Regions from separate parts of the Homo sapiens genome. Here region 1 is linked to region 2. Evidence: fine-mapped expression QTL. A gene starts in region 2. The other region holds a variant in brackets. All regions are shown on one strand. Distances are between the middles of the regions. Region 1 holds the start of KDM4A-AS1 (KDM4A antisense RNA 1). Region 2 holds the start of KDM4A (lysine demethylase 4A).

What was found.
Region 1: its variant is fine-mapped to the expression of KDM4A in nasal epithelium (TOPMed, PIP 0.94).

The regions. Positions count from the first base shown.
Region 1 is chr1:43,692,511-43,707,422 of GRCh38, forward strand. KDM4A (lysine demethylase 4A) reads left to right here. Exons shown (of 22, transcript NM_014663.3): 17 at 1,484-1,592; 18 at 2,199-2,384; 19 at 5,333-5,503; 20 at 11,107-11,226; 21 at 11,510-11,602; 22 at 11,720-13,008. The coding sequence ends at 11,860. KDM4A-AS1 (KDM4A antisense RNA 1) reads right to left here and starts at 14,831. Exons shown (of 5, transcript NR_033827.1): 1 at 14,549-14,831; 2 at 11,843-11,947; 3 at 11,054-11,137; 4 at 10,146-10,218; 5 at 7,214-8,242. RefSeq lists enhancers at 14,461-14,912, 14,704-14,783. The variant A/G (reference allele first, on the strand shown) is at 8,279.
Region 2 is chr1:43,642,299-43,657,210 of GRCh38, forward strand. KDM4A (lysine demethylase 4A) reads left to right here and starts at 7,851. Exons shown (of 22, transcript NM_014663.3): 1 at 7,851-7,954; 2 at 10,839-11,015; 3 at 13,293-13,468. The coding sequence starts at 10,878. RefSeq lists a silencer at 7,618-7,737.

The sequences.
Region 1 (14,912 bases), 50 kb after region 2:
CAGCTGCTCCTCTGCAGCAGAGATGTCAGTGACATCCTCCTTTGGAGAAGCTAAGAATGGACTCATGAGAATATGAAGACGAAGATGATGCGCAGGGACTGTGTGGGCTGGAGTGAGGACATTCACCTTGTCACAGCTGGGGCTGGTATGCAGAGGCGGCCACAGGCTAGCAAGCACTTCTCCACATGGCAAACTCCCTGGCTCAGACCTGCTGTTTGGAATGAGGCGAGTGTGCTCAAGGAGGACACTGAGGAGAGCTCAGACAGGCCCACCCACTATGGAACCGAATCTGCTGAATTTTCTGGGCTTCTCAGCTGTTGGGCAGCTCGTTTTCATGGAGTGAATCTTTGTGCTTAGGCTTGTGTTTGGTTGCTCTGAGGTGGAAACGTAAGATGAATGAGGTTTCTGACCTGGAAGAGCTAGCTGTCTAGGGCATGGTGCGTGCAGGTCAGTGCTGAGTATCCTGCTTCCAAGTAGAATCCCGTGGCAACTTGCAGCATATGTTCAGTCCAGCCGCCTGCCCTCAAGAGTCCCAGTTATGCTGTCCCTGAGAGATAGCTACTCTGCCTGCTGCTTCTGCTCCTTCAAAGGCACTTGCTGCCATTATTTGAGGTCACTGGGTTCCTCACAGTCACAGGATAGTGCTGGGAACATTCTTTCTTATTTGGAGTGGAAATGGCTGTGCTTGAATCTCTCACCTTTACCTCTGAATGCCTGTTCTGCCCTCCAGGGCCACACAGAACAAATCTGTTCCCACTCTAAAAAGACAGCCCCACTAGAACTGCAGAGAGCTTCCATGGAGCCCCAGTGTTGTCTGGTGTAGGTTTTCACGTAGCATGGTTTTAAGAGTTGTCACCATTTTCGTTCTTCTCCTCTTGATGCATGCTGGTTTCCCAAAATGTCCAAAACTTACTTTAATTCTTAAGGATGTCCGTTGAATAGACCTCTCAGAGTAAGTGGGGCTTGGGTCAGACCTTAAAGATTAAAGAGTGAGTCAGCTATGGAAAAAGGGAGCAGAAGGGAGAGGTCATTTCAGCCTGGGGGAGAGGTTTGGGCAGAGGCCGAGAGAGAGCTGTGATTACTGGCAGATTAGGGCACAGCCGGGGACGTTTTCAGGAAGCACTTGGGTCCTATGGTAAAGAGGTCTGCATAGAGCTTTCCAGTTTATTCTCACTCCCTGAGACCTGCCACACACCATTAGCCTGCAGCTCTGTTCATTTTTCAACAGAGTGGTGTAAGAAGCATGATCCGGTGCTAACCTAGGGCAGTGGGCAGTGGCCTAGGTGGGCAGTGGGGGTGGCACTGCTTCCACATACTCAGAGGAGAGACGGTTCTGGTTCTCACCTTCCTGGGTCCCAGGCATGTGCTGGTGGAAGTCAGTGGTCACCCAGGTGAGGGAGGAAGCGCTGTCAGCAGGCCCAAAAGAGAAGGCCACAGAGCCTTGGGCCCAGAGGTGACTGAGGGAGCCTTTGCCTTTTGGCAGGTGGGTCCACGTTTCATGTGCTGTGGCAATTCTGGAAGCAAGGTTTGTCAACATTGCAGAAAGAAGTCCGGTGGATGTGAGCAAAATCCCCCTGCCCCGCTTCAAACTGGTAAGGGCTTGTAGACTCTACATAATTTCCCGACTTACAAGTTTCTGGGTAGAAGAGAACAGGGACCTCCTGTACCCCTTGGTTTTGGTTAGAGTTTGTGATTCTCACTCTGTGGTTAGATTCCTTAGTGGAGGCCAGGTGTGGTGGCTCACACCTGTAATCCCAGCCCTTTGTGGGGCCGAGGTGGGTGAACCACTTGAGGTCAGGAGTTCAAGACCAGCCTGGGCAACATGGTGAAACCCCGACTCTACTAAAAATATAAAATTAGCTGGGAGTGGTGGTGCGCACCTATAATCCCAGCTCCTCGGGAATCTGAGGCAGGAGAATCACTTGAACCCGGGAGGCGGAGGTTGCAGTGAGCCGATATTGTGTCACTGCACTCCAGCCTGGGTGACAGAGCAAGACTCCGTCTCAAAAAAAAAAAAAAAAAAATTTCCTTGGCAGATAAAGTTGTAACCAGACCTGGATTAGAGCAGGCTGGTGTGTCCTTGTATTTTGGGAAGGGGCTGGCTCTTGCTTGCTTGGCTTTGCATTTGGGAGGGGAACAACAGAGGAAGCTGCAGTGCCAGTTCCTGCAATCACTGGTTTTCTTCCCCTGTGCTACAGAAATGTATCTTCTGTAAGAAGCGGAGGAAAAGAACTGCTGGCTGCTGTGTGCAGTGTTCTCACGGCCGCTGCCCAACTGCCTTCCATGTGAGCTGCGCCCAGGCTGCCGGTGTGATGATGCAGCCTGACGACTGGCCTTTTGTGGTCTTCATTACCTGCTTTCGGCACAAGATTCCTAATTTGGAGGTGAGAGAGGGTGTCATTCTAGAATCCTCTTGACAGTTTTCATGGTCATTTTCTCTGCATGTTTTCCATTTGTTGTATCAGCAACTATTTCCTCAAGCATTCTGCATTATGAAGAGTGCTAATGAGTTAAGAGATTGAGAGGTGGCCCCTGTCCATCTCCACTCCCTGCCTTGTACTCCATAAGCCAGTGACACCAAACTGCTTGTAGTTGATTCGTTTTGATTATCTCTTTACTTGTCTGCCTCTCCATCAGAATAAACTCCTTGAGGGTCCATATCTTATTAATGTGGTCATCCTTATTACTTAACCTAGTGTCCGGGACATGCAGAACCTCTGAAAATGTTGAGAACAAATGGGGAGAGCTCCCAAGAGTTAACCATGAATTGCCAGACAGTAGAGATTTCTGCAGTTCTCTTAATGGTAAAGCTTAGAGAAAAAGTGACATGTAATGTTAGCTAGAGGAGCTCTGAAGAGGATTGGGTAGACGGTGGCATTTGAAGTGGGTCTTAAACAATAAGAAGGAATTGTATGCAGAGACTGTTGTGTGCAGAGCTTGAGAAACAGAATGAACAGGTCGCAGAAGAAGGATCATGAAAGACTGGTTATGGGAGTGTGACGGTGTGTGGGAGTGTGATGCTTGAGAGGCGGACAACGGCAGAGGATGAAGGCCCTGCACTGCCACTCTCAGGACTCTGACCTGTCTTCACTGGATGAGAACTTGTTGAATATTTTGATTCTGCATTATAGTTTTTGATAATCACTCAGGTGGTTGTTTGAAGAGAGGATTCAGAGTAAGAATTTGAGGCTGGAAAACCAGTTAGTCCAGGAGAGAGTGAGGTCTGAAATGGGAACACATAGGCAGGGCTTTGGGGTACATTTAACTTTGAGATCCTCCAACAGGTAGAACTGATAGGGTTTATTGACCCTCGTGGGTTGAGGAGAGAAGGGGAGAGGAGGAGGAAAGGGGGAGTGAATATTGAAGATGACTCAGGTTACTCCCTTGAGAGATGGGAAGGATGCTAATATGATGTTAGTAACTGCAATCAGGAACTGAGATGAAGCAGTGTTGCTCTGCAAGGGAGAGAAGGAGGGATGAGAAAGAGGAAAGTAAATGCTGAGGTCACTGGAGCATTCTGGAGAGTAACTGTGAGGGTAAAGATTTGGCTATTAGCATTTAACAGCATAGTTAAATCTAGTTCCCATTAGAAACTGGGCTCTGGAGATTCCCAGTGGGAGAAGCAGGTAGCAGAGCATGAACCAGTGAAAGCAGTTGAGAAAGTGAAGCAAGCCAGTGGGAGGAAGGAGGGTCATATCCAACAGAGAAGGCAGGGCTGGTGTGGTGGTCACTAAGTACCACAAACTGGAGTGTCCCTGTGGAGTAGTCAGGTCAGAAGCCAGACCGTAGTTGGGGAAGGCTCTGCCATGAGTGAGTTACAATCTAATAGAAGAGGCGATCATACAAGTTTGACAACAGTGTGGTAAATACATAATCAAAGGAAGAACGTGATAGATGGCCAGCCCAGAAGGATGAACTTTTCACTCTGCCATTTGGGGTTGCAGAAAAGTCCTGGTTGGCTGACTGCATTCTTTTTCATAAAGATGTTGAACGTGACAGGTGGTCAGGGGTATGATAGGAAGGACCTTAGGAAGATGGGAACATATTGTATGTGAGAATGAGACTCCGGAGTGTCTCAAGGGCCCTGCCCTAGCCATCCCTGGTGCCCTCACCATGCCCTTCTCATTCTGAACTTGCCCTTAATGCAAGTAAAAACTTGAGGTAGTACTGAGTCACAGCTATGATAGGGAAGAGTTTTTTCATACACAGAATAGTTATTTTGTGATAATCATTAATACTCCACATGCTTAAGCTGGCAGCTGTAGACTGCTGGTGCTATGAGGAAATTGGGGGGACTGATGAGTTAGTAGTTTTTTCACTGATTTATTCTTCAAATGTTTATTGAGCATTTACTATATGCCAGGCACAGTTTTAGGTGCCAGGACTATACCATTGAACAAGACAAAAAAGTCCTTGCCCTTCTGGTGCATACAGTATAGTTGAAGGACACATAGAAGCAAGTAAATACACAGTATAGCAGATGGTGAGAAGTGCAGGGATAAAAATTAAGTCAGATAAGGGGAATGGAAGATGAAGTAGTAAGGAATGACATCAATAAGTTGACACTGGGATGGGAGTCAGTGTGCAAGTAACTGGGGAATGGCATCTCAGGTAGAAGAACCAGCAGTGTCGAAGCCCTGGGTGGCAGCACATATGGCACACTCATTCAGGGAACAGCAAGGGGGGCCAGCATGGCTGGGGCAGAGTGCCTGGGCAGGCTAGCAGGCGTGCTTGGAAATGAGGCCGTCACATACTTTGTGATCCTGTTTGCATCAAGGGCAAGTTCAGAATGAGAAGGGCATGGTTGAGGGCACCAGAGATGGCAATGGCAGGGCCCTTGGAATGGGGGACAGTTTGTTGTGTGTAGCTGGAGACATCTGGGAAACCTAAGTCTTTGTGCCCTAGCCCTGAGGGTAATGCTGCAGGTGCTAAGATGTGGTGCAGCTTTGCCTGGCGGCCCAGGCCTCAGGGCACCTATTGAGTCTCTCCTTCGATACTTTGATGTCAGTTCTTGGCAAGATCAGAGGTCCATGTTGTTGTTCAGAGAGTTCTGGGTAAGATAATATGGTATAAGGGCCAGTTGTGGACTAGCTAAATTTATGGGAAGAGCTAAATTTATGGAGGAAATGTGGTACTGGTCTCTTCCAATGTCCTGGCTGGGATGGTGGGTATCTGGAAAGGCTTGTTTTAGCTCCCATCTCTTCTCTCCTTTTTACTTTTACTTTCCCATGCTTATCTTTCCCTGATAAGGAGGAACTAATTGATCTTCATCTCCATATGCCAGGCCTGCAAACTCCACGTGTGAGTAACCAAAGCCTCTGTTTTTTTCCAGCGTGCCAAGGGGGCCTTGCAAAGCATCACTGCAGGCCAGAAAGTCATTAGCAAGCATAAGAACGGGCGCTTCTACCAGTGTGAAGTGGTCAGGCTCACCACCGAGACCTTCTATGAAGTCAACTTTGATGATGGCTCCTTCAGCGACAATCTTTATCCTGAGGACATAGTGGTAATATCTGCAAGGAGCTTCTCAGGCAGTTTGGAATGGGGGGATGTTTCTAAGGTCTGGCTGGCAGACTGTGTGTGTATGCCTGCTTCTTCTAGCCAGGTCCCTGGTCCCATCACCATGTCCTCAAACAGAAAGAATCATCTGTACCAGTCTTTCTTTGCAAAGAAAACTGCGTGCTGCTAGGGTACCCTATTTTCCCTAGAAGTACCTGGGAATCAGTATTTTCTGCAATTCCTTGAAACCTGCATCTGTTGCCGTCTAAATTATCCTTGAGGGCATTCTAGTGCAATAGGAGAGCCCAGGCTTTGGAATCAAATATGCCAATACCAGCTTCATTGCCTAGTAGCTGTGTGATTTTAGGGGAATTATCCAACTCTCTTTTCTATCAGGCCCTCTTAGTAGATGTATAGAATCTGCTTTTGTCTCTTCACAGTGGGCTTTAGGGCTAAGTAGAAACTGCCTGGAGACACCCTTGGCCTGTTTATGTTATCAACACCTGAGACACAGTGGCCCCACATGGACCCAGTCCTAGGTCTGGCTTGGTAGTGAGGACTTAGTTCAGGTTTCCCCTACCCCCACCTTGCCTTTTCAGTTGGTAGACTGACCACCAAAGTAGAGAGGAATGAAACCATTTTTTCCTTTAACAAATCAGGTATTGTCCCATGTTTATACCACATTAGCCACTCAGTTGCTAAAAGCACATTCATTAGTTATAAGGTAGACTTATAGAAAAGGCGACATTAGTAGTACTCATAGCAGTAGCATAGCTATCATTTATTTATATTTTATTTGTGAGACAGGGTTTCACTCTGACGCCCAGGCTGGAGTGCAGTGGCACAATCTCAGCTCACTGCAGCCTCAACTTCCTGGATTGAGGTGATCATCCCACCTCAGCCTCCCTGGTAGCTGGGACTACAGGAACGCACCACCACAGCCGGCTAATTTTTTAATTTTTTGTAGAGACGGGCTTTTGCCATGTTGCCCAGGCTGGTCTCAAACTCCTGGGCTCAAGTGATCTGCCTACCTTGGCCTCCCAAAGTGGTGGGATTACAGGCGTGAGCCACTGTGCCTGGCCTTATTTTTTTTTTTTTTTTTTTGAGAGAGACCAGGTCTCACTCTGTCACTTAGGCTGGAGTGCAGTGGCTGTATCATAGCTCCTGCAATCTCAAACTCCTGAACTCAAGTGATCCTCCTGCTTCAGCTTCCCAGGTAGCTGGGACTACAGGCACATGCAGTCACACCTGGCTAATTTTTAAATTTTTTGTAGTAACAACGGTCTTGCTTTGTTGCTCAGGCTGGTTTCGATCTCGCAGCTTGAAGCGATCCTCACATCTTGGGCCCCCAAACCACTGGGATTACAAGAGTTTGAGCCACCATACCTGGCCCTTGCTGTAATTTATTAAGCTGGTACAGTATGCCAGGCACTATGCTAAGTGGTTATTTCAAGTATCTCTTTATCTTCTCATACCCACTGTGAGAAGGATGTGGTATTATCTCTAACTTACAGTGGTTTCAGGACTCCATTTTCTACAAGTTAGAGACCCCAAAGAGCCTGTGTTTCTCTGGGTTACATCTAAACGTATTTATTCTTATTAGAAATTAAAGCAGATTGATTTAAAATAATCAATTTTTTTAGATTAAAAATAACTTTTCTAAAACAAAAACAAAAGATTGCCATTTCCCTGCAATTTTGCAAATCTCTTTAATGTCTTTTTTTTTTTTTTTTGAGATGGAGTCTTGCTCTGTTGCCCAGGCTGGAGTACGGGAGTACGGTGGCATGATCTTGGCTCACTGCAGGCTTCACCTCCCAGGTTCACGCCATTCTCCTGCCTCAGCCTCCCGAGTAGCTGGGACTACAGGCGCCCGCCACCATGCCCGGCTAATTTTTTGTATTTTTAGTAGACATGGGGTTTCACCATGTTAGCCAGGATGGTCTTGATCTCCTGATCTCGTGATCCGCCCGCCTCGGCCTCCCAAAGTGGTGGGATTACAGGCGTGAGCCACCGCGCTGGCCTTAATGTCACTTCTTGATTCAATCTATTGTGATACACTGTTTAGGTTCAAGTATAGGAAGAAAATTCAGCCTTGCGTAGATATGTAATTGGAAAAAGGAGTTTGTTTTTGTTTTTTTAAAATAGGGTTTCACTCCAGTCACCCACGTTGGAGTGCAGTGCAGTGATCTCAACTCACTGCAACCTCCACATACCAGGCTCAAGTGATTCTGCTGCCTCAGCCTCCCAAGTAGCTGGGACTACAGGCCCTTGTCACTGGCGCCCAGCTAATTTTTTAATTTTTTGTAGAGATGGAGTTTTGCCTTGTTGCCCAGGCTGGTCTCAAAACTGGGCTCAAGCAATCCGCCTACCTCGGCCTCCCAAAGTGCTGGGATTACATCTGTGAGCCACCACTCCCAGCCAAGGGAGGTATTTTAATAGTCTTTCAGGTAATTGTGTTTATTATTCTCTGATATCCACCAAAACTCAATGGAAGTAACAACTTTTTTTGTTTGTTTGTTTGTTTTAAGAGATGATGTCTTGCTTTGTTGACCAAGCACCTCCCGAGTAGCTGGGACTACAGGCATGCATGGCTATTTGTAGAAATGGGGTCTTGCCATCTTGCCCAGGTAGTCTCAAACTCCTGGGCTCAAGCGATTTCTTTTGCCTCAACCTCCCAAAGTGCTGGGATTACAGGTGTGAGCCACTGCTCCTGGCAGGTTCTTAAAAGTTAGTTGCAGTGTGGAATCTGAAAGGTCAGTGAACGTTTCATACTGTTAACACT[A/G]AAACCCATTGGTCTCTTCTGAATGGATCTTTCACCCATGCATCCTTTTATAACATCATACTTTGGTCATTTAGAAAATATTGGTGCACTGGCCTATCGACAGCCTCCAAATGTTGTTAAATATTATTATAAATTTAATTTTTTTTTTTTTTTGAGACAGAGTCTCGCTCTGTCGCCAGGCTGGAGTGCAGTGGTGCGTTCTTGGCTCACTGCAACCTCCACCTACCGGGTTCAAGCGATTCTCCTGCCTCAGCATCCCAAGTAGCTGCGACTACAGGTGCACGCCACCACGCCCAACTAATTTTTGTATTTTTAGTAGAGAGGGTTTCCCCATGTTGTCCAGGATGGACTCAATCTCTTGACCTCGTGATCTGCCCGCCTTGGCCTCCCAAAGTGCTGGGATTACAGGCATGAGCCACCACGCCCGGCCATAAATATTTTAAAAATTACATTTGTTAGTATCACTAATAATCAAAAAACTTGGAATTTTGGGAAGTTTCAAGCTCACAGTTGTGAATGCCGCTTCTCTGAAATGCTAATATTTGTTTGAAAGCCTGAATTTTACTATTGGCAACAGATACTGACTTTTGTTTTCCTTGACATGACAGGCGTTCACTTCATGCATTTTCAAGAAGATGTCTGCCAGATACCTAAGTCTGAAAAGCCATAGTTTGTCAGTCACTTTTTTCTTTTTTTAAATTTTCATAGAGTTTTTTAAAGACAGGGTCCTGCTCTGTTGCGCAGCACCACTGCTGGAGTGCAGTGGCATGGTCATGGCTCACTGCAGCCTCATCCTCCCGGCCTCAAGCAGTCCTCAGCCTTCCGAGTAACTGGGACTATAGGCGTGTGCCATCACACCTGGATAATTTTTTATGTTTTGTAGAGATGGGGTCTCCCCTGTGTTGCCCAGGCTGGTCTTGAACTCCTGGGCTGATGCGATCCTCCTACCTCTGCCTCCCAAAGTGAGGGATTACAGGCATGAGCCACCATGCCTGGCCTAGTAATTTTTTTCAAATAAAACTGGTATTCCATGAACAAAGCAGCTAGTGTAATTCACAACTCAAACAACACAGATAGATTTCTTTGAGACAACCAAAAGTGTCTTATGAGGACTTAACACATGTACTCAATGATTAAGATTTAACAACATTAATAATTTTTTACTGCTTCATCAAGGGATATTGTTACATGCAATCTAGAGTTTTTGCTCTTTTCTCCTAAATTATGAGTGTACAGTGGTGAAAAATGCAATAACAACTAGTAGAGCTTAGGGTCAGTGCCTTGATCTGTGCTCAGGTGCCAGCAGTTGTACCTATCCTAGGTAAATGACAACACAGTGACAAAGGCTAATAGTTTAATATTATAAAAATAGCCATGTCTCACTTGCTCCCTGACAGTGTCTCAGGAACCCCTCAGAGGTTCACAGACCACATTTTCAGAAGTGCTGTTATAGGAGGTGGAACTGAATTGCAGAGAACTTAAACAATTTATCAAATATCAAACATTTGAGTAGTTAAATCTTAGAACACCTCAGATATTGGGTGTAGGAGGCTGTAGTTTATGCCTAATTGTTAGATTGATACAAAATGTATTTACTGATTACCTATTCAGTAAATGAATTGTCAATAAGTAGGGAACTGTTTCCACTCAATAAATGAACTGTAGCATGATTGTAAGAGCAGATGTGAGCATCCACATCCTTTTAGACTCACTGCCCTGCCCCTCTCTCATTTTTTAAGCCATGTCCCTAAGGACCTTCTCCCAGGTATACCTATCAGACCTTTCATTCAGCCAATATGCTGAATGAAATATCCCCCCGTATACCAAGCCCTATGCTGGGAATACGATGAGGACTTGGGGTACTTACCTGCTTCTGGAAGGAATAAAAGTTCTGAAGTACTTTGCCAGGTCCCATGGTAGGTGACTCTTTTTCATCTTTCCTGTTAAGAACATATTTCTTGGTTGGGCACAGTGGCTCATGCCTGTAATCCCACCACTTTGGCAAGCCGAGGCAGGCAGATCACCTGAGGTAAGGAGTTCGAGACCAGACTGGCCAACATGGTGAAACCCCGTCTCTACTAAAAATACAAAGATTAGCTGGGCATGGTGGCACGTGCCTGTTGTCCCAGCTACTCGGGAGGCTGAGGCAGGAGGATTGCTAGAACCCAGGAGGCTGAGGTTGCAATGAGCCAAGATCAGGCCACTGTATTCCAGCGTGATCTCAGCTCTCTGCAAGCTCCGCCTCCTGGGTTCACACCATTCTCCTGCCTCAGACTCCCGAGTAGCTGGGACTACAGGCGCCTGCCACCACACCTGGCTAATTTTTTGCATTTTTAGTAGAGATGGGGTTTCACCATGTTAGCCAGGATGGTCTTGATCTCCTGACCTGGTGATCTGCCTGCCTCAGCCTCCCAAAGTGCTGCGATTACAGGCATGAGCCACCGTGCCTGGCCAAAAAAAACACATGTCTTATAGTTGAGTATGGTTCTAGTATTTCTTCATGGCAGAGCCCTGGAGAACCCGCAGGGGAACAGTTGAGGGAATGTAAGAAGGACTCTTGATTCTGGCACTTAACTCCTGTGTTTACTAAGTTTGTTATAGCTGGATTTTTTTTTTTTTTTTGGTCACCTAGAAGCAGGAGAGGGCAGAGATAGGGGCAGACTTTGACTTAGCAAGGTCTTTAACTGTTAACATTTTTCAGCCCAGAGAGCTGCCTTGCTCTCTAAAACAGTTACTTTGTCCTGGTTCACTCTTCCCTGAGTAGAGGACAGTTACCTTTGTGTGCAGGTGGACGTTCCTTTCACCCTCCTTCCTTCCTGTTTCCTCAGAGCCAGGACTGTCTCCAGTTTGGTCCTCCTGCTGAAGGGGAAGTGGTCCAAGTGAGATGGACAGACGGCCAAGTCTATGGAGCCAAGTTTGTGGCCTCCCACCCTATCCAAATGTACCAGGTATCCAAAGTTCTACCTTTCTAGGGAGTGGGGGGTGCTTGATTAATTCTGTGCTTCCTGTTGGGCCAGAGGCGAGTCTTTGCTCTTAGGAGAACTAATAGGTTGGTAACCCTTTCAGAGCTAGGGGTCTGCCCTGTTTCCAGTCTGCCAAATGTGAAGTAAGGTAGTTGTTATTTTAGTGTTCTAACTCCTTCCTTTGACTGTAGGGGACTGCCACTGTGCATGGTGGACCAGGGAAAGAGTCAGGGATATCCTAGCCAAAAGGCCTTTGTTTCCTTGGTAGGTGGAGTTTGAGGATGGCTCACAACTTGTGGTTAAGAGAGATGATGTATACACACTGGATGAAGAGCTTCCCAAGAGAGTCAAATCTAGACTGGTGAGTATTTTCTGTGTCCCCCCAGTTCCTGTCTTGGAGGGAGGGAACAAGTCAAGGATGCATCCCTTTGTATTGTTCCTGGGGTAGCTGACACTTGGCTTGCTTATTCTTCTATAGTCAGTAGCCTCAGACATGCGCTTCAATGAGATTTTCACAGAGAAAGAGGTTAAGCAAGAAAAGAAACGGCAACGAGTTATCAACTCAAGATACCGGGAAGATTATATTGAGCCTGCACTATACCGGGCCATCATGGAGTAGGTGCTTCCAGGGTCCAAGGGATTCTCAGCCATCCAGGCAAGAGCACTCTGGGTTCCACAGCACAGCAGACATGGAACGCTGAAGTCTCTGAAAGTGAAGTTGTAAAAAGAAAAGGAATGAAATAACCGACCCATCATCTTCTCACCCACCCTCATTGCATTCCGCTGTAGTGAAAGGACGAGCCATTTCTGGGCACGTGGCAGCAGTCGCTGATCTCCCAGCTGAGGGGCTGAGCACTGGAATGCTGTGGCTGCACTGGCCCCAGTCCATAGAGGGGTCAACTATGCTGGCTGGACTGGCTGCCTTGTTCCTGGCCTAGGACTTAGCTTCATAACTATCACCTGCACCGACTAGGCTGAGGTGCTGGTACTTGCCCCAACCCCTACTTTTGTATTTATATGTGTGTGTGTGTGTGCGTGCGTGCGTGCGTGCGTGTATGTTTGGTCTGGACCAGCTTCTGCCAGCCCCTGGCCTTTACTTTCTTCCTTGCCTATGCAGGGCAAACAAAATGTGAAATTCTGCCCTCAGCTGAGCTGAGTAAGGGCTCCTGGGGGTTGGCTGGAGATGGGTGTGGCATCTGTCCAGGCCTGGAACCGTCTCAAGACAGTGCTGGCAAAGCTGCAGTATTGAGATGCTAAGGAGCTGATGCCACCTCTTTGTCTTCCCCTAAAGGAGAACATGGGGATAACATGGGTGTGTGCCCACAACACTCTAGGTGCAGAGCCCCTGTGGCAAAGTATTACAGGGTGTGGGTGGGGATTACCCTGAATCGGGGATTTTAATGATGGAAGCAGGCAGAGCCTGGTGGGTGATTCTGTCAACAGAAAATTGCAATCATGCAGGGGCTGGGAGGGTTAGGATGAAAAAACTGGGGCCATTGGAGGCCCACTGTAGGTGGGAGGGAGCTGATTTTGGGGTGGGGGGTGGGACTAGAGGGCAATACTGAAGGGGTTAAACAGGTTTTTGCTCCTCAAGAATTTGTTTGCCTGGGCCCAGGATTGGAGGGCTTCACACCAATACCCTGTGTATACAAGAATCAGATTTATAATACTTCCCCTTTTTTGTTACGTATGAACACTATAAACCAAATTATTTTGAAAACTGGTGCATCACCTTGTCCTTAGCAATAAAATGTGTTGAGCAGAGGATTGGCTGTCTGCCCCAAGGAGCCCACGTGGCCCACGTCAGGCTGGGGGGTGTATCTAGAGTCATAGGCTCTGGAGCGGGGCTGTGTATTTTAAGACAAATCAGTAAGGCATTCCCTAGGAAGTTCCAGAGAGTGGGTCCTTTGCTTGTCAAGCTCTGTATTAGGCCAAGTATGGTGGGTCATGGGAGCAGGGACACTTCTGGCTCTGAGCACCTCTTTGTTGTGCTTGCTCTGCCTTAGAGACGGGCAAGATGAGGTAACAGAGGAAGCACCAGACCAATGAGTCCTCTCAACAGAGTATCTCTCACTGCTGCCCCATTTGATACATCTTTGTTGAACTGGCCTAAGTTCATGCCAGCATCTGTGCTCTATACAAATTGTGGAACCAGTGGGAAGGATGGGTGCATTTTAGGTGCTTGAAAAGCAAGGGACTCAACCTCCAGTGGGATCCTCAGATTGCTCTCCGAGCTGTCTAGTTGGTGAGAAGCTTCCCTGGAGGAAGACCCAATCTCCTTTGGCTGGTAGATCCCTGAGGTCAAAGTGGACAAGGATGGGGAACCACAGAGCAGGGAGGGGGGCAATGAATAGGTGCAGGACTTGGGTGCCCCGGAGCTGCACCGGCTGGCCCTTAAACAGCCAGGCACTTCCTGTGGCATGGCCCTGTCCAGGTGCAGGAGAGGCTTAGGTCAGTTCAGCTGCTCTGGATGCTTCCTTGTGTCCCTGGGGGTTGAGAGGTGGTTGCTACTTGGTATCTCATTGTGGAGAAAGGGAGGTGCAGGAGGTGATCTTTTCTATGTCAGCTCCCTCCTGGGGCCCAGGGAGGGAAGTTGGCCTTTTTTTTTCTTTGCCCACACTCCACTTGGGGATTCCCAGGGGATGTAGCAAGGGAGGCTGGGCAGAACCAGGCCTTAGTGGATTGGTGAGAGAACACTAATCCATACATCTTTGGAAGAGAGGAACACTTCACCAGCCTTTTTACACAGGATCCCTACCTTTCTCGATGACCCCACTGCCTCCAGGGGTGGGCGCTGGGTTTAATCCCAGCAGTTTTTACTCAACAGCTGACCAGTTTTCCAGAAACTGCACTTTTTTTTTTTGGTCAACCTAATAACTCTTAGGAAACTGCAACTCAGGTGATCCAAATCACACAGACCGGCCCGTTCTCTCCCCTACTGGCTGCCTATGCAGTCGGGTCGACCTCAAGAGAACTGGCCCCAGCCAAAAGCGGCACCTCCCGGCCTGCCAGTCCCTTCCTGCCTTAGGCAGCTCCTCCCAGAAGCCTTTTTGTAGGGCAAACTGCCTTCCCTTTGTAAGGTAGGGCCTTTGGATCCAAGGTTGCAGTTTAAAGACCACCCCGACTTTGTTGAGGAATTAAGTTTTAAATTCCGCCCCAGGCGGATAACACCAGGGCTCAGCCGCAGGAATGAAAAAGGAGTGGGAGGGCTGCAAAGTGTACGTGGGGCTTGGAGGCCTTGTGCCACGCGCGGACTAAAAATGTTCTACGAGTCTCTTAACGCTCACCCCCGTGCCCCCTTACCCACCAGGGCCCACGGAGGTCCGAAGCTTTCGGCCTCAGTGAGCGGAATGGGTGCGCTCACGACCTGGAGGGCGAGATGAGATGTCCCTCGGCGTGAAGTGGCCGTGACTACCCTAGCACTTTGCGTTCCCCGCGCGGGCGACGAAACACGCTCTCGAGGGGAGAGAGCCGTGCGTCCTCTGGGCCGTGAAGCCAGGGGAAGAGGGTTCCTCTAGACAGCTCGATGTGCCCGGGAGAGACACCCACGCTGAACCTGCAAGCTGGGGTGCTCCACCAGCGCGAACCTCTCGCCCCGCACTCGCCGCAGCACTGCTCTCGTGGTAGGCGGGGTGGGCGGGACGGCAAATCCGCGGCTCCTGCGTCTATTG
Region 2 (14,912 bases):
CAGCCTCCTGAGTAGCTGGGATTACAGGCCCATGCCACCACACCTGGCTAATTTTTGTATTTCTAGTAGATGTTGGCCAGGCTGGTCTTGAAATCCTGACCTCAAGCAATCCACCTGCCTCGGCCTCCCAAAGTGCTAGGATTACAGGCTCGAGCCACCATGCCCAGCGTAGAAAATAATTTTTTAAAAAATTAAAAAGAATCAGTCTGCTGTGTTGAGGAGACTGCAGGGGGCAAGGGCAGAGATACAGAGACATTAGCAGGCTGTGGCAATTATCCTATTCAGGCTAAGGATGGCTTGGAGCAGGGTGATGGAGTGGAGGTGAAGGGAAGTGTTGAATTCTGGACATATTTTAGGGGCAGAGCAGAACTATGTAAATGTTAATGTCAATGCACCAAAACCACAATTCATACAATAAACTGATAAATTGAACTTCATCAAAACGAAAACTCTTGTGCTTCAAAAGACACTAAAGAAAATGAAAAGGCAAGCCACAGAAGGAGAGAAAATATTTTTAAAGCCTACATCTGATAAAGGATCTGTATCCAAATACATAAATAACTTTTACAACTCAATAATAAGAAGACAAACAACCCAATTAATACATTGACAAAAGGTTTGAATAGACATTTCACCAAAGAGGATATATGAATGGTTAATAAGCACATAAAAAGATGCCCAACATCATTAGTCATTAGGGAAATGCTAATTAAAACCACAGTGAAATACTACTTGGCACCCACTAGAATGGTTATAATCAGAAAGATAGACAGTACCAAATGCTGGCAAGAATATGGAGAAATGGGACTCCTCATGTATTGTTGATGGGAATGTAAAATGGTACAGCTACTTTAGAAAATAGTTTGGCAGTTTCTTAAAAAGATAAACACAAATTTACTATACAACCTAGCAATTATTCCACTCCTTGTTATCTACCCAAGAGAAATGTAAACAGACATTTACACAAAGGCTAGCATGTAAATGTTCATAGCAGCACTATTCCTAATAGCCAAAAAGTGGAAGCAACCCAAACATCAATCAACACTACAGTGGAATACTATTCAATAATAGAAAGGAGGGAAATACTGATGCATGCTACAACATGGGTGACTCTCAAAAAAATTATGCTCAGTGAAAGAAGCCAGACACAAAAGACCACATAGTCTATGGTTCTATTTATATGAAATGTCCAGAAAAGGCAAATCTATATAGACAGAAAATAGATTAATAATTGCCTGGGGCTGGGGGTGGGAATGGAGACTGATTATAACTGGGCACGGGTAATCTTTTTGAGGTGGTAGATTTTATTGAGGTGATGGAAATGTTCCAAAACTGGATTGGGTGATAGTTGCATGCGTTTGTAAATTTATTTAAAAATCATTAAATTATATTATTAAAAAGAACATTGTTAATGATAGCATATATCTAAATGTAAACAATTTTTGTGCATATAAAGCATTTAGCACAGTGTTTGAAATATAACAGCTCAATAAATGTAGTTAACTTTGTTTTGTTTGTTTGTTTTTTGTTTTTTGTTTTTTTTTTTGAGACTGAATTTTGCTCGTCACCCAGGATGGAGTGCAACGGCACGATCTCGGCTCACTGCAACCTCCACTTCCTGGGTTCAAGCAATTCTCCTGCCTCAGCCTCCCGAGTAGCTGGGATTACAGGCGCCTGCCACCATGCCCAGCTAATTATTGCATTTTTAGTAGAGGCAGGGTTTCACCATGTTGGCCATGCTGGTCTCTAACTCCTGACCTCAGGTGATCCACTGGCCTCAGCCTCCCAAAGTGCTGAGATTACAGCAGTGAGCCACTGCACCCAGCTGTAGTTAACTTTTTTTTTTGGGGGGACGGAGTCTCGCTTCGTCACCCAGGCTGGAATGCAGTAGCGCAATCTCAGCTCACTGCAAGCTCCACCTCCCAGGTTCATGCCATTCTCCTGCATCAGCCACCTGAGTCGCTGGGACTACAGGCGCCCACCACCACGCCCGGCTAATTTTTTGTATTTTTAGTAGAGACGGGGTTTCACTGTGTTAGCCAGGATGGTCTCGATCTCCTGACCTCGTGATCCACCCACCTCGGCCTCCCAAAGTGCTGGGATTACAGGCGTGAGCCACGTCACCTGGCCTAGGTGTAGTTAACTTTTTAAGCGAATAATATTGCCATTATGATTACTTATGTCATGCCTGCCATGTGCTCGGCATTGTGCTGAGTGCTGGATAAAGTGAAGCTCTAGGAAAGGAAACCCTGGACTGGGAACATGGCATACACTTTATGCCATGATAGCTTTATTTCCAAATCCTGCTGCCATTGGTGGCAAGTCACTCTAAAGGTGTTCTCCCCTATTCTTTTCCTTCATAGCAAGCACAACTTTGTGGCAATTTTTCTTTTTTTGAGATAAGAGTCTCACTCTGTCATCCAGGCTGGAGTGCAGTGGCTCCATAATAGCTCACTGCAGCCTCGAATGCCTCAGTCTCAGGAGTAGCTGGGGTTACAGGTGTGAATCACACCCAGCCTATAATTTTCTTTCTTTGTGCAAGCACTTGCTTCATGTCTCTCTCTCACTAGATTATAAAAACCATGAGTGCAGGAAAGGGTCTGTTCCACTCATTACTGGCAGGCAGGCAGATTCTGGTAGTCTTTTTGCTGGTGTGATAGAAGAAACAGGACACTGTCTCTGTCCTCCTTCTGGAGCTGCAGCAGTCACCTTACAATCACGAGTTGCACAAGAGGGTGGCAAAAGCCACGTTGCAAAGGGTGCAAGAGAAAGATGGAACATACCTGTATGTTTCATGACTTTGTTGAGCACTGAGCTAAGGCTCACCACCTTCAGACCTCTTATCCGATGAGAAAATAAACTTGTATTTAGCCACTTTTGCTAGGGTTTTCTATTTTTGGCAATGGAATACATTCCTAAACGGTATTAGCAATAAGACCAAAATGATATTCTCACGAGACTTTTGTCTAGTGAGGAAAGATGCACATGTAAACAAATCCATGCATTTGTAAAATACTTGCTTTGTGGAGCTCTGGACAGGGTGAGGTAATGGACTGCACCTGGCTTAAGCAATTAGGTCATGGCTCTTCCACTAACTGAGATAGGAAACCTAGGAGGTACAGCTTATTTGTGGGGCAAGAGTAGCTCTTTGTTGGGTAGGTCAGCTTTAAGTAACTGTAGGACAACTAGGGGGAGGGATCCAGAGACAGCAGGATACATGGATCTGAGCTCCAGGGAGAAGATGTCTGGGATATACAATGGGTGTCATCAGTGTGCACATGAGTGCAGCCTAAGAGTGAAAGTGTATTGAGCTCTTGTTTCAGGCTCTGTGCTAAGTGCTTTGTACCATCATCATCATTTACTGAGCTGACATTTACTGAGCACTTACTACGTGCCAATTAGACTTCTAACTGGTTTACTTCATTATCCCATTACTTCATTTATCTCATTCAATTCTCACAACCCAGAAAGGGAAGTACTATCCCAGTTTTAGTTATGAGAAAACTTGAGAACTAGAGAAATTAAGTAACTTGCTAGTGAGTTGTAGAGCCAGAAACACCTGCACGTGGGCAGCTGTCAAAAAAACAAAAACAGAAACAGAAACAAAAACCCACCTGGGCAACATGGCAAAACTCCGTCTCTACAAAAAAATACAAAAATTAGCCGGGCTTGGTGGCATATGCCTGTAGTCCCAGCTACTTGAGAGGCTGAGGTGAGAGAATCGCTTGAGCCCAGGGGGTTGAGGTTGCGGTGAGCTGTGATTGCACCACTTCACTCCAGCCTGGGTGACAGAGGGAGACCCTAACTCAAAGAAAAAATAAAACAAAAGCACCTAAGAAGACTGTGTAGAATGAGAGAAGAGGGCAAAGGACCTAAAGCTATGAGGACATTAACATGTTTTTCCTTTTTTTTTTAACTAAAAAATTTTAAATTTACTTTTAAAAACTAAGGTATATGTATATCAAAACTTATGCACAACTTTCAAGCATACAGATCAGTTAATTTTCACAGCCGGGCATGTTCATGCTTGGAAATTCCAGCACTTTGGGAGGCCAAGGCAGGAGGGTTGTTTGAGCTCAGAAGTTCAAGACCAGCTGAGACAACATAGGGAGACCCCACTTCTATTTTTTTTTTTGAGACAGAGTTTTGCTCTTGTCACCCAGGCTGGAGTGCAGTGGCGTGATCTCGGCTGACCGCAACCTCTGCCTCCTGGGTTCAAGCGATTCTCCTGCCTCAGCCTCCTGCGTAGCTGGGATTACAGGTGTGCACCACCATGCCCAGCTAATTTTTTATATTTTTAGTAGAGATGGGGTTTCGCCATGTTGGGCAGGCTGGTCTTGAACTCCCGACCTTAGGTGATTTTCCCACTTTGGCCTCCCTAGTGCTGGGATTACAGGCATGAGAGCCACTGCACCCAGCCTCCCAGTTCTATTAAGAATTTTTTGGCCGGGCGTGGTGGCTCACGCCTGTAATTCCAGCACTCTGGGAGGCCAAGGCAGGCGGATCACCTGAGGCTGGCAGTTCAAGACCAGCCTGACCAACATGGTGAAACCCCATCTCTACTAAAAATACAAAATTAGCCGGGTGTGGTGGCTCATGCCTGTAATCCCAGCTACTTGGGAGACTGAGGCAGGAGAATCACTTGAACCTGGGAGGTGGAGGTTGCGGAGAGCTGAGATCACGCCGTTGCTCTCCAGCCTGGGCAATAAAAGGGAAACTCCGTCTCAAAAAAAAAAAATTTTTTTTTTAAATTTAAAATTTTAGTGGCCAGGTGTGGTGGCTCATGCCTGTAATCCCAGCAATTTGGGAGGCCAAGGTGGGCAGATCACCTAAGGTTGGGAGTTTGAGACCAGTCCGGCCAACATGGCGAAACCCCCTGTCTACTAAAAATACAAAAAATTAGCTGGGCGTGGTGGCACACGCCTATAATCCCAGCTACCTGGGAGGCTGAGGCAGGAGAATCGCTTGAACCCAGGAGGTGGAGGTTGAAGTGAGCTGAGATGGCACCACTGCACTCCAGCCTGGGTGATAGAATGAAACTGTCTCAAAAAAATATCTATCTATCTATCTATCTATCTATCTATCTATCTAACCAATAAATAAAAGTAAGTTTTACAATGTGAACACACTAGCATAACCACCATCTAGATGAAGAAATAGAACATTGCCGCTGGGCGGAGTGGCTCGTGCCTGTAATGCCAGCACTTTGGGAGGCCGAGGCAGGTGGATCACTGTGGTCAGGGGTTCGAAACCAGCCTGGCCAACAGGGTGAAACCCCATCTCTACTAAAAACACAAAATTAGCCGGGCGTGGTGGCACGTGCCTGTAATCCCAGCTATTTGGGAGGCTGAGGCAGGAGAATCACTTGCACCTGGGAGGCAGAGGTTGCAGTGAGCCGAGATCACACTACTGCACTTCAGTCTGGGCAACAAGAGCAAAACTCCATCTCAAAAAAAAAAAAAAAAAATTCCTAACACCCCAGAGCATTCTTTGTGCCACCCTTTCCCATCATTCCCTGTCCCCTACCTAAAAGTAACCAGAACATTGACTTTTATTGCTATAGGTTAGTTTTGCTTAGAATATCGACATTTAAAGCGTGCAAAGGGGCTGGGCACGGTGGCTCACGCCTGTCATCCCTGCACTTTGGGAGGCCAAGGCGGGTGGATCACTTGAGGTCAGGAGTTTGAGACCAGCCTGGCCAACATGATGAAACCCTGTCTCTACTAAAAATACAAAAAAAATTAGCCGGGTGTGGTGGCGGGCGCCTGTAATCCCAGCTACTCAGGAGGCTGAGGCAGGAGAATCATTTGAACCTGGGAGGCGGAGGTGGCAGTGAGCCGAGATCGTGCCTGGGCAACAAGAACGAAACTCCGTCTCAAAAACAAAAAAACAAAAAAGCAAGCAAACAAACAAAAAGTGTGCAAAGGGAAAGGTGAGCTTAAAAAGGAAACAGGAAAACTGGTCAGAAAAATGGGAGCATATCACGAGAACTTGATTTAGGCTCCACCTATCACATGCACATACCAATTGGAAGCTAGTGATACACAGTAGAGGGCCCTTGGAAATCATCTGGCAGCACCAGGAAATACAGCAAAATCCAGTTTATGGAACACAGTAACAGTAACTAGCGACTGTATCCATGTCCAGGACAGTGGAGTCTGTGAAGCAACCTGCAGTATCTTGTGCTTAGTGGCAGCAGGAAAGACAGTGGTGGATGAATTCTACCGCAGGATTTGGGTTTTCTTTATGTGTCCTGCAAGTTGGATTCTTCAGACTCGGCACTTTTGTGAGCCACTCAGTATAATCTATTATCTAATACTGTCGATTACCTTACTGGGTAAGGGCAAAAACCCCTATTGTGAAAGACTTGTGGCTGCGTAGCCAACGGCCATTCTTTTTGAAACAGTCATTTCTGTTTTTGAAACTATTTTTTTTAAAGATTTTTTTTTCAGTAGGCATGTACCCAGCCTGAGGCATAAATCATGATTGGTCCATAGCATTCTATGAAATATGTTCTTTTTGCCAACATTCATTAACTCTCATCTTTACAAAATTTGCAAGGCATTATTTTTTCCATTTTATTGATGTGAACTCCCAGGCTCAGAGAAGTTACTAGTTTTGAACACAGGCCTGACTCCATATAGCTCTTTCCAGGGCACTACCCCATTATTCATCCATGGTAATTCTGTATATTTTTTTATGACTCTGGTTGTGGGTATTTTACTTTCCTACTTGACCTTCCCCACTACCCTTGACAATCTGGGAATTCCTTAAGGCGACTCACTACCCCTCAGGAACCGCTCCTAATGACTTCTAGGAAGCCCCCTCGCCCTCCAGAAGTGCCTCTTCTGATTCCCAGGATGCCCCCCTCTCCGCCCCAAGAGCTGCTCCTAATGATCCCCCAAATCCCCGCTCACTGAGGAACTGCTTTTTTTTTTTTTTTTTTTTTTTTAGACGGAGTTTCACTCTTGTTGCCCAGGTTGGAGTGCAATGGCGCGATCTCGGCCCACCGCAACCTCCGCCTCCCGGGTTCAAGCGATTCTCCTGCCTCAACCTCCGGAGTAGCTGGGACTACAGGCATGCAACACCACGCCCGGCTAATTTTGTATTTTTTTTTTGAGTAGAGACGGGGTTTCTCCATGTTGGTCAGGCGGTCTCAAACTGCCGACTTCAGGTGACCCGCCCGCCTCGGCCTCCCAAAGTGCTGGGATTACAGGCGTGAGGGACCACGCCCGGCCAGGAATTGCTTTTTAATGACCCTAAGGAGAGCCTCCCTCATGGTCTGTCCTAATGACCCTCAGGGCAGCTTCCCTTCCCTGTTCAGGCTTGACAGCGAATGAGGGGTTTCCAAGGCCACGGGATTTTGTTTTGAAAACCGAGACACCCAGGACAAACCGGGACAAGACGGTCATCTTTTCAGCACTCCCTGAGCTCGGAAGCTGCCCCTAAGGGCCCCGACACATTTCCACGTTAGGCAAAGAGGATACTCATCCCAAGAAAACTTTGGCCTATCCTTTCGTTAGCGACATCCTATAGTAACCTCACCGCCCTTACCCATCTACCGGACCGGCCCACTTCCAGGTACTAGCTTCTTTCAACCCTGATTAGTTATGGGTGACCAGGAGCCCGCCTATGATTGGCCAGCTTCGCGATCCAGCTAGAGGCTCACTGGCCGCGGTCCCTAGTGGTACAGCGTTTCCTCCCGGCAACAGCCCGAGCCGGCGCTCATAGGCTGAGCACACTGAGGTCGGGACTGGGAGGTGGCTGCGGCGCGTGCTCATTGGCTGGTGTATGGCTTGCAGCCACCCTTGAATTGGTTGACTCTGTACGGCTGCGCAGATGCCGACTTTAGAGGAGGCGGAGTTTCGGCCTTCGCCTGCTGGAAAAGCAGTAGGATCGGCCAGTGGCGACAGCAGGAGCTGAGCCTAAGCCCTGGCGGGGCTTTGGGCTGTAGGTGAGAACTATAGGGTTTTGGAATTCTCGAGGATCATTGCCGCTGTAGCAGTGACCGTGAGTTTTGGTGGGGGAGGGGCGGTGGGGGTGGGTCTTCCAGCGGTGAGTGATCGGCATGTTTCTCGGCCAATAGGAGAAGGAGCTTCCAGAATGGGTTCTGAGATTGGTCCTTTCCAATCTTCAAGGCCAATGGACCTCGGGAGAGGGGGGCGGGTCATCTGGGCCTTATTTTCTTCTTCCTGCGGCCGAGCTTCACTCGCCAAGGCGGCGGGGCCGGGAGGGGCCGAACCTGTGCGCGGTGAGGTTCGGGGACGGTGGGGAGCAGGGTGCGCTGCCTTTGGAGTGATGCTCGCGGGAGCGGCTGCGAGGGAAGGGTGCGGGAGTCCGAGGGGGTTGTTAGCAACAGCTAGCTTTATTGAGTGGGTAAGTACCGGGCCTAGTGCTTAGTGCTTCGCTTGCATCATCTGAGCTAATCACAGCGACCCTGCAGGGCAGGGGGTTGGGATCCCCATTTTACAGGTGGAGAAACTGAGACTCAAGTCAGCTCACACAGCCAAGGTCACATAGCTAATAAACGGCAGAGACCGGATCTGTATTCAGAGTTTTGACTTCGGAGCCGGTGTTCTTGAATCTCTAGGCTTTGTTACTGATTGGGAGGGAAGGTGTCATGAAACGGGAGCTTTCCCCAGGGAACAGATTTGGGGGAAGGGAATCCTAGGGTTGAAGAAGGGATGAACAATTGAGGTGAGGGTGAGGAAATCAGTTTTTCAACAGTTACCGATTGCCTACTCTGTGCCATGCATTGTTCTAGGCATACAAAGATGAATAGGGGCAGAGGCTGATGAAGCCCATTAGGGCCCCTTTGAAGGCCCGGGGAAGGGCCCCAACATTGTATTCACATGATTGTATGTTTTTATAAAATGTGCAAAAGTAAGATATTTTGGATTCATTTTTCTTTTTAAGAGGGTCTTCAAAATTAAATAAACTTCGGGTTTCTCCACACTTGGAGCTGCCCTTGCAGAGGACTTAGTCCAGGTGGAGATGAGTATGTAAGCAGTATAGAGCAGTGGAAGGTGCACTTAAGAGTGGGCTGTGGGCAAATTTCCTGGTATGTAAAACAGGGAGAACAGTATACCTGCCATGCAAAGTTTCTGCCAGGTTCATGAAAAGCGCCTGTTTAGAAACACGCCTTATTTTTGATAGGAAGCCTAGGAGATACGGGTAACTGGATTTGCCTTCTCTCCTACCTTACACAGTTGTGCTCCGTGTTCTGCTCCCAGGCCTGTAACTAGATTTCTGGTGGATTGGAGGCGCTTTTCTCCTTTCTGAGCTCTCCAACTCTCAAAGAGAGTCTTGGAGCTGAACCGCCATACCTTTGGGCCCCAGATAGGGGGTACGGAACTGCTGGACCCTCAGTGAGGAGGGTGGGTAAAGGAAAGGACATACTGGTGTTCCTTCTAGAATGGCCTATTTTCATTGATATGCTTTGTCTTTTTTCAGTTGAGGTGGTCTATTGCGTTACCGAGCTGTGGGGATGCACCCACTTAGCTGAAGTTCTCATCTAAAAACAAAGTATTTATTTTGCTTTCTCCAATCAGTTATGAAGTTTTCCGTGTATTGCCAGTTTAAATTTTGTCCTTTGAGTTCTGGGTACAGTGCAACTGAACTTGTCTGTAGCTTGATTTCATTAAGTACTGCTGAAACTGCATCTTAGTTTCAACAGAACAGTTTCACTTTAGGGTTTTAAAATTATGTTACTAATATCAAAGGGCTTTTAAATCATGTTACTAATATCAAAGTACTTTTGAACCCTTAAGTTTTGTTATCTTGTAGCCACGTAACTTTTATTAGGTATCTGGTTTAGCTGTGCCCTAGGGAGGAGCCTTGGCCTCCCAAAGTGCTGGGATTACAAGGCGTAAGCCACCGCACCCAGCCATGGGTGGCTTTCAAGTTGTAGTGTATTCTGTTTAATACTCTGAAAAGTGATTAGCAAGGTGTTAATAAGGGAGTAGCTTGAAAGGATAAGGGTAAAATATGGGCATTTTAGCTGTACTATTAGGACCAACAACTAAATAATTAGTTTCCTTTTTTTAGCTGAAACAATTTTCTTTTTTTTTTCTTTCAAGAACAATCCTATTGCAGTAACAATGTCTCTGTTGAAATAAGGTTTGAATCCATGCAGTTTTGATACATCAGGTTCTTTTTAAACAGAACCTTTTCGATCTGTATTTCTAGTTTATTTAAATAACTTTTTGTTGTTTATTTAAAAAAAATTTTTTTTGAGACAGGGTCTCACTATGTTGCCCAGGCTGGTCTCAAACTCCTTAACTCAAGCGATCTGCCCACCTCAGTCTCCCAAAGTGCTGGGATTACAGGCTTGAGCCACCACACCCCCACCCTAAATTACTTTTCTTTCTTTCTTTCTTTCTTTTTTTTTTTTTTTTTTTGAGACGGAGTTTCGCTCTTGTTGCCCAGTCTGGAGTGCGATGGCGCAATCTTGGCTCACTGCAACCTTTAGCCTCCCGGGTTCAAGTGATTCTCCTGCCTCAGCCTCCCGAGTAGCTAGGATTGCAGGTGCCCGCCACCATGCCCAGCTAATTTTTTGTATTTTTAGTAGAGACAGGGTTTCACTGTGTTGGCCAGGCTGGTCTCAAACTTATGACCTCAGGCGATGCACCCGCTTTGGCCTCCCAAAGTGCTGGGATTACAGGCGTGAGCCACCGTGCCCGGCCCCTAAATAACTTTTCTAGAGGTAGATTCCAGGTGTGAAGTCTTAACTGTGTCTTTTGAATTTCTATATTATCTTTTACTGTTTTCAGAGTTGATGTTTCCAGCACTTAATTTTAATTTTTATATTATTTTATACTCTTAATGTGTTTCTTCAGATTCCTGTCTGACTAAAGGGACCTCAAAAAGGAGGGAAAATGGCTTCTGAGTCTGAAACTCTGAATCCCAGTGCTAGGATAATGACCTTTTATCCAACTATGGAAGAGTTCCGAAACTTCAGTAGATACATTGCCTACATTGAATCCCAAGGAGCTCATCGGGCAGGGCTAGCCAAGGTAAGGAGCTGGGATTGTTCAAATGGTTTTGTTACCTAGGGCAGAGCAGTAAGATTTTTTTCCTACATTTGGGCCGGAACTGTGTTTTACTGAAAGTTGGGTGGGGTGATGACTTTAGTGAATGCGGTTCTATTTGCAAGTTAATTCCCGTTGTTAACATCAGAAGCATCTCTGCTTTTAGGTAGGAAGAGAGCTACTTGGAATCTTCAGAAAGGGGGAGGTAAAGAGCTAGTGTCTCCAGGCCTGGCTGCTGTTGTGCCTCAGCCCTCTTGGTGGAGCTGGGTGCTGTGGTGTTATTGAACTGCCAGTGAGTGCTTATGCCATCTGACTTCTCTTGCTCTCATTTCAGTCTCATCCAGCACTCTAGTAGCAATTTGGCTTCCCATGTGGACTTTCTTCAAGGGGAGAGAATGCACTGGCCAGCCAACATGAGTATTCTGGTCCTTGTAATTTGAAATTGGTTTCTGGTTTGTACTTCTTTCTCCTGTGAGTTGGATTCGTTATTTTTCCTGAGTCAAATCAGCTTTTCATATATTCTGTCACAATCAGGTTGAGTGCTGGAAGCTGAAAGAACTGCATTTCTGGAGAGATCCTCAGGAAACTGAGAGGCAGGGACCTCAGTCTAAGCCAGGAGGAAATTTTTTACACCATTTTATGTTGTTTGAATTCCCTACCATATGTGCTTGTTACATTTTCAATATGAAAAGAGAAAGCAAGAACATTGGCTACAAAGCTGAGGACCAGTCTTGGACCCTGGTGCCTCCAGAGACTTGAGACGACCACATCCTCTTTCTTATCTGCAGATACGGCTACTGCTGGGTTAATAACAGCAGGCGGGAATAGCAGGGCCTGCAGTGCAGTTTTTCATAGCACATTGCTTTTTTTGGTTGTACTTTATTAGATTTAAAGTTACCAAAAAAATGTCGGTTATTACAAGTTAAATATTTCAAACGCAGATAAAGAAAAGGCTGATCTTCATCCACCTTCTCCAGTGCCGTCTCCTTAAGTGGTATTAGCTCCCTCCACACCTTTTTCTCTGCTCATACAAACATACACACATATAAAATAGTGTTATTTGTTTTGTTTTTAAAAGAGAATGGCATCATGCCATATACATTCCTGTGTTGGTTCGTTCATTCTTTTTTCTTTTTTTTTTTCTTTTTTCCTTTTTAACAACATATATTCCTCCCTCTAGGTCAATTATGGATTCAACTCATTCTTCTTTTTTCTCATGTCGACTGTCTTGTTAATTTATTACTATTGGAATGGGTAATTTGATTATGTGAGTAAAAACAGAATGCTATTGGAAGGTAGCTAATGTAGAGTCTTGCTCCCTTTCCGTATTTTCTTATATGTCCTTTCAGTGTTGCCTTATGCAGATGCTTGTGAGTGTGTGTGTGTGTGTGTGTGTGTGTGTGTGTGTGTGTTGTTTTCTCCCTTGTTACATAAAGTAAAACAATACTCTCTAATTAAAAAAAAAAAAGCTGTATAGTATTCCATAAAGCAGATCTATCTTACTTAACTATTCAAGATTAGATTTTTTTTGTTTTTTTTTGAGATGGAGTTTCGCTCTTGTTACCCCAGCTGGAGTGCAATGGCGCAATCTTGGCTCACTGCAACCTCTGCCTCCGGGTTCAAGCGATTCTCCTGCATCAGCCCCCCAAATAGCCGGGATTATAGTTGAGTGCCACCACACCAGGCTAATTTTTGTGTTTTTAGTAGAGATGGGGTTTCACCATGTTGGCCAAGCTGATCTCAAACTCTGACCTCAGGTGATCCACCTGCCTCGGCCTCCCAAAGTGCTGGGATTACCGGCATGAGCCACTGTGCCCGGCCTCAAGATTAGATTTTTAAGAATGTTATGCTTCTTTGTAATTAAACTGTAATCTAGTGTGTGAAAAAAGGAAATTCTGTACAAGTATAGAGTTGACCAAATCAAGTAAAGTTGTGTTTGTGATTTTTTTAAAGAGAGCCCTGGGCTAGGAGATTGAGAGAGAATCAAGTCTTTAATCTCCTTTCTTGGTGTCCAAATAAGATACTGAAGCTGGGAACAAGTATTACTTACCTTAGGTTGCTGCAATTAGGCAGCTGGTTGGTGGCAAAAGTGGATCAGGGTTAGCATGCCTGTGACTTACTGTGTTTTGGTGAATGTGGGTAAATCAAAGTAACTGTCTAGTAAAATTGACTGTTAGGTTGGCTGGTAACTACATGCTTCCTGGACTCTGACTGGCTTGCCAGGTTTCTCATCTGTCTTTTTGTTTCTTGTGTTCCCTTCAGGTTGTTCCTCCAAAAGAGTGGAAGCCACGAGCATCCTATGATGACATTGATGATTTGGTCATTCCTGCCCCCATTCAACAGCTGGTGACGGGGCAGTCTGGCCTCTTTACTCAGTACAACATACAGAAGAAAGCCATGACTGTTCGAGAGTTCCGCAAGATAGCCAATAGCGATAAGTGAGTGGAAACCCTTTCTTACCTGACATAGCACCTAGGACCCTGGTGTCTCATCCTCCTAGCATCTCCAGGACTGCTGCTGTCCTGATGAACAGTGTCTTCAGCAGGATGGCTCTGTTCTAGCTGTCTCCCTTTCTGCTTTTTTTATGGAAGCATTCCCTCCTCTCAGGACTGTGTCCCAGTCTAAACCTGTTCCTGTTCTTATAACAACAAATCCCATTGTTTTTCCATCAGAAGTAGAATCATTTTCTGACTCTAAAGTTGCAAGGAGAAAGTTGGATGTGGTGCACAAGGAGCTTTTGCTGGGTATTATCAACCACCTGCTCATCAAAAGTGCTTTAGTTCCACTTCCTCTCTCTCGGGATGCTCTGTGTTTAATTGTGCTGGAATTTCTCACTGCCCATCCAGCCTGCTAGCTCATTTCTGTTTTGACATTAACAGTGTGAGTAAACCACCAAGCTGGTTGCTATTTTCTGTCACTCCTTCTTTCTCTGTACATTCCTGTCTCTTTTAGAGATATCTTTCTTTGTGTAGGCCTGTTTTCAGTTCTTCTCTGCTGTTGGTTTTTTTTTTTTTTTTTTTTTTTTTTGAGATGGTGTCTCACTTTATTGCCCAGGCTGGAGTGCAGTGGAGTGATCTTGGCTCACTGCAACCTCTGTCTCCCAGGTTCACGTGATTCTCCTGCCTCAGCCTCCCAAGTAGCTGGGACTACAGGCACGCGCCACCATGCTTGGCTATTTTTTGTATTTTCAGTAGAGACAGGGTTTCGCCACATTGGCCAGGCTGGTCTTGAACTCCTGACCTCAAGTGATCCTCCTGCCTTGGCCTCCCAAAGTGCTGGGATTACAGGCAAGAGCCACCACTCCTGGCCCTTCTCCGCTGTTTTTAATGTTTAGTTCTCATTTTTCCTGAGATTCACAGAGAATAAATTTTGTGTTTCCTTGTTCAGCTCTGACTACTCCATCTTTTTTTTTTTTTGAGGTGGAGTCTCGCTCGTTCCCCAGGCTGGAGTGCAATGGTGCAGTCTCGGCTCACTGCAACCTCCACCTCCCGGGTTCAAGCAATTCTCCTGTCTCAGCCTCCCGAGTAGCTGGGATTACATACAGGCGCCTGCCACCACGCCTGGCTAATTTTTGTATTTTTAGTAGAGACGGGGTTTCACCGTCTCTACTGTCACCCAAGTTGGAGTGTAGTGGTGCAATCATGGCTTACTGCAGCCTCGACTGCCCAGGCTCAAAATGATCCTCCTTGCTCAGCCTCCCAAGTAACTGGAGGTATAGATAGGCATGTGCTACCGCGCTCAGCTAATATTTTTTATTATTTGCTGCCCAGTTTGGTCTTGAACTCCTGGGCTCAAGCGATCCTCCTGCCTCAGCCTCCCAAAGTGCTGGGATTATAGGCATGAGCCACTGCATCCGGCTGACACCTTAACTCCTTTTATTTA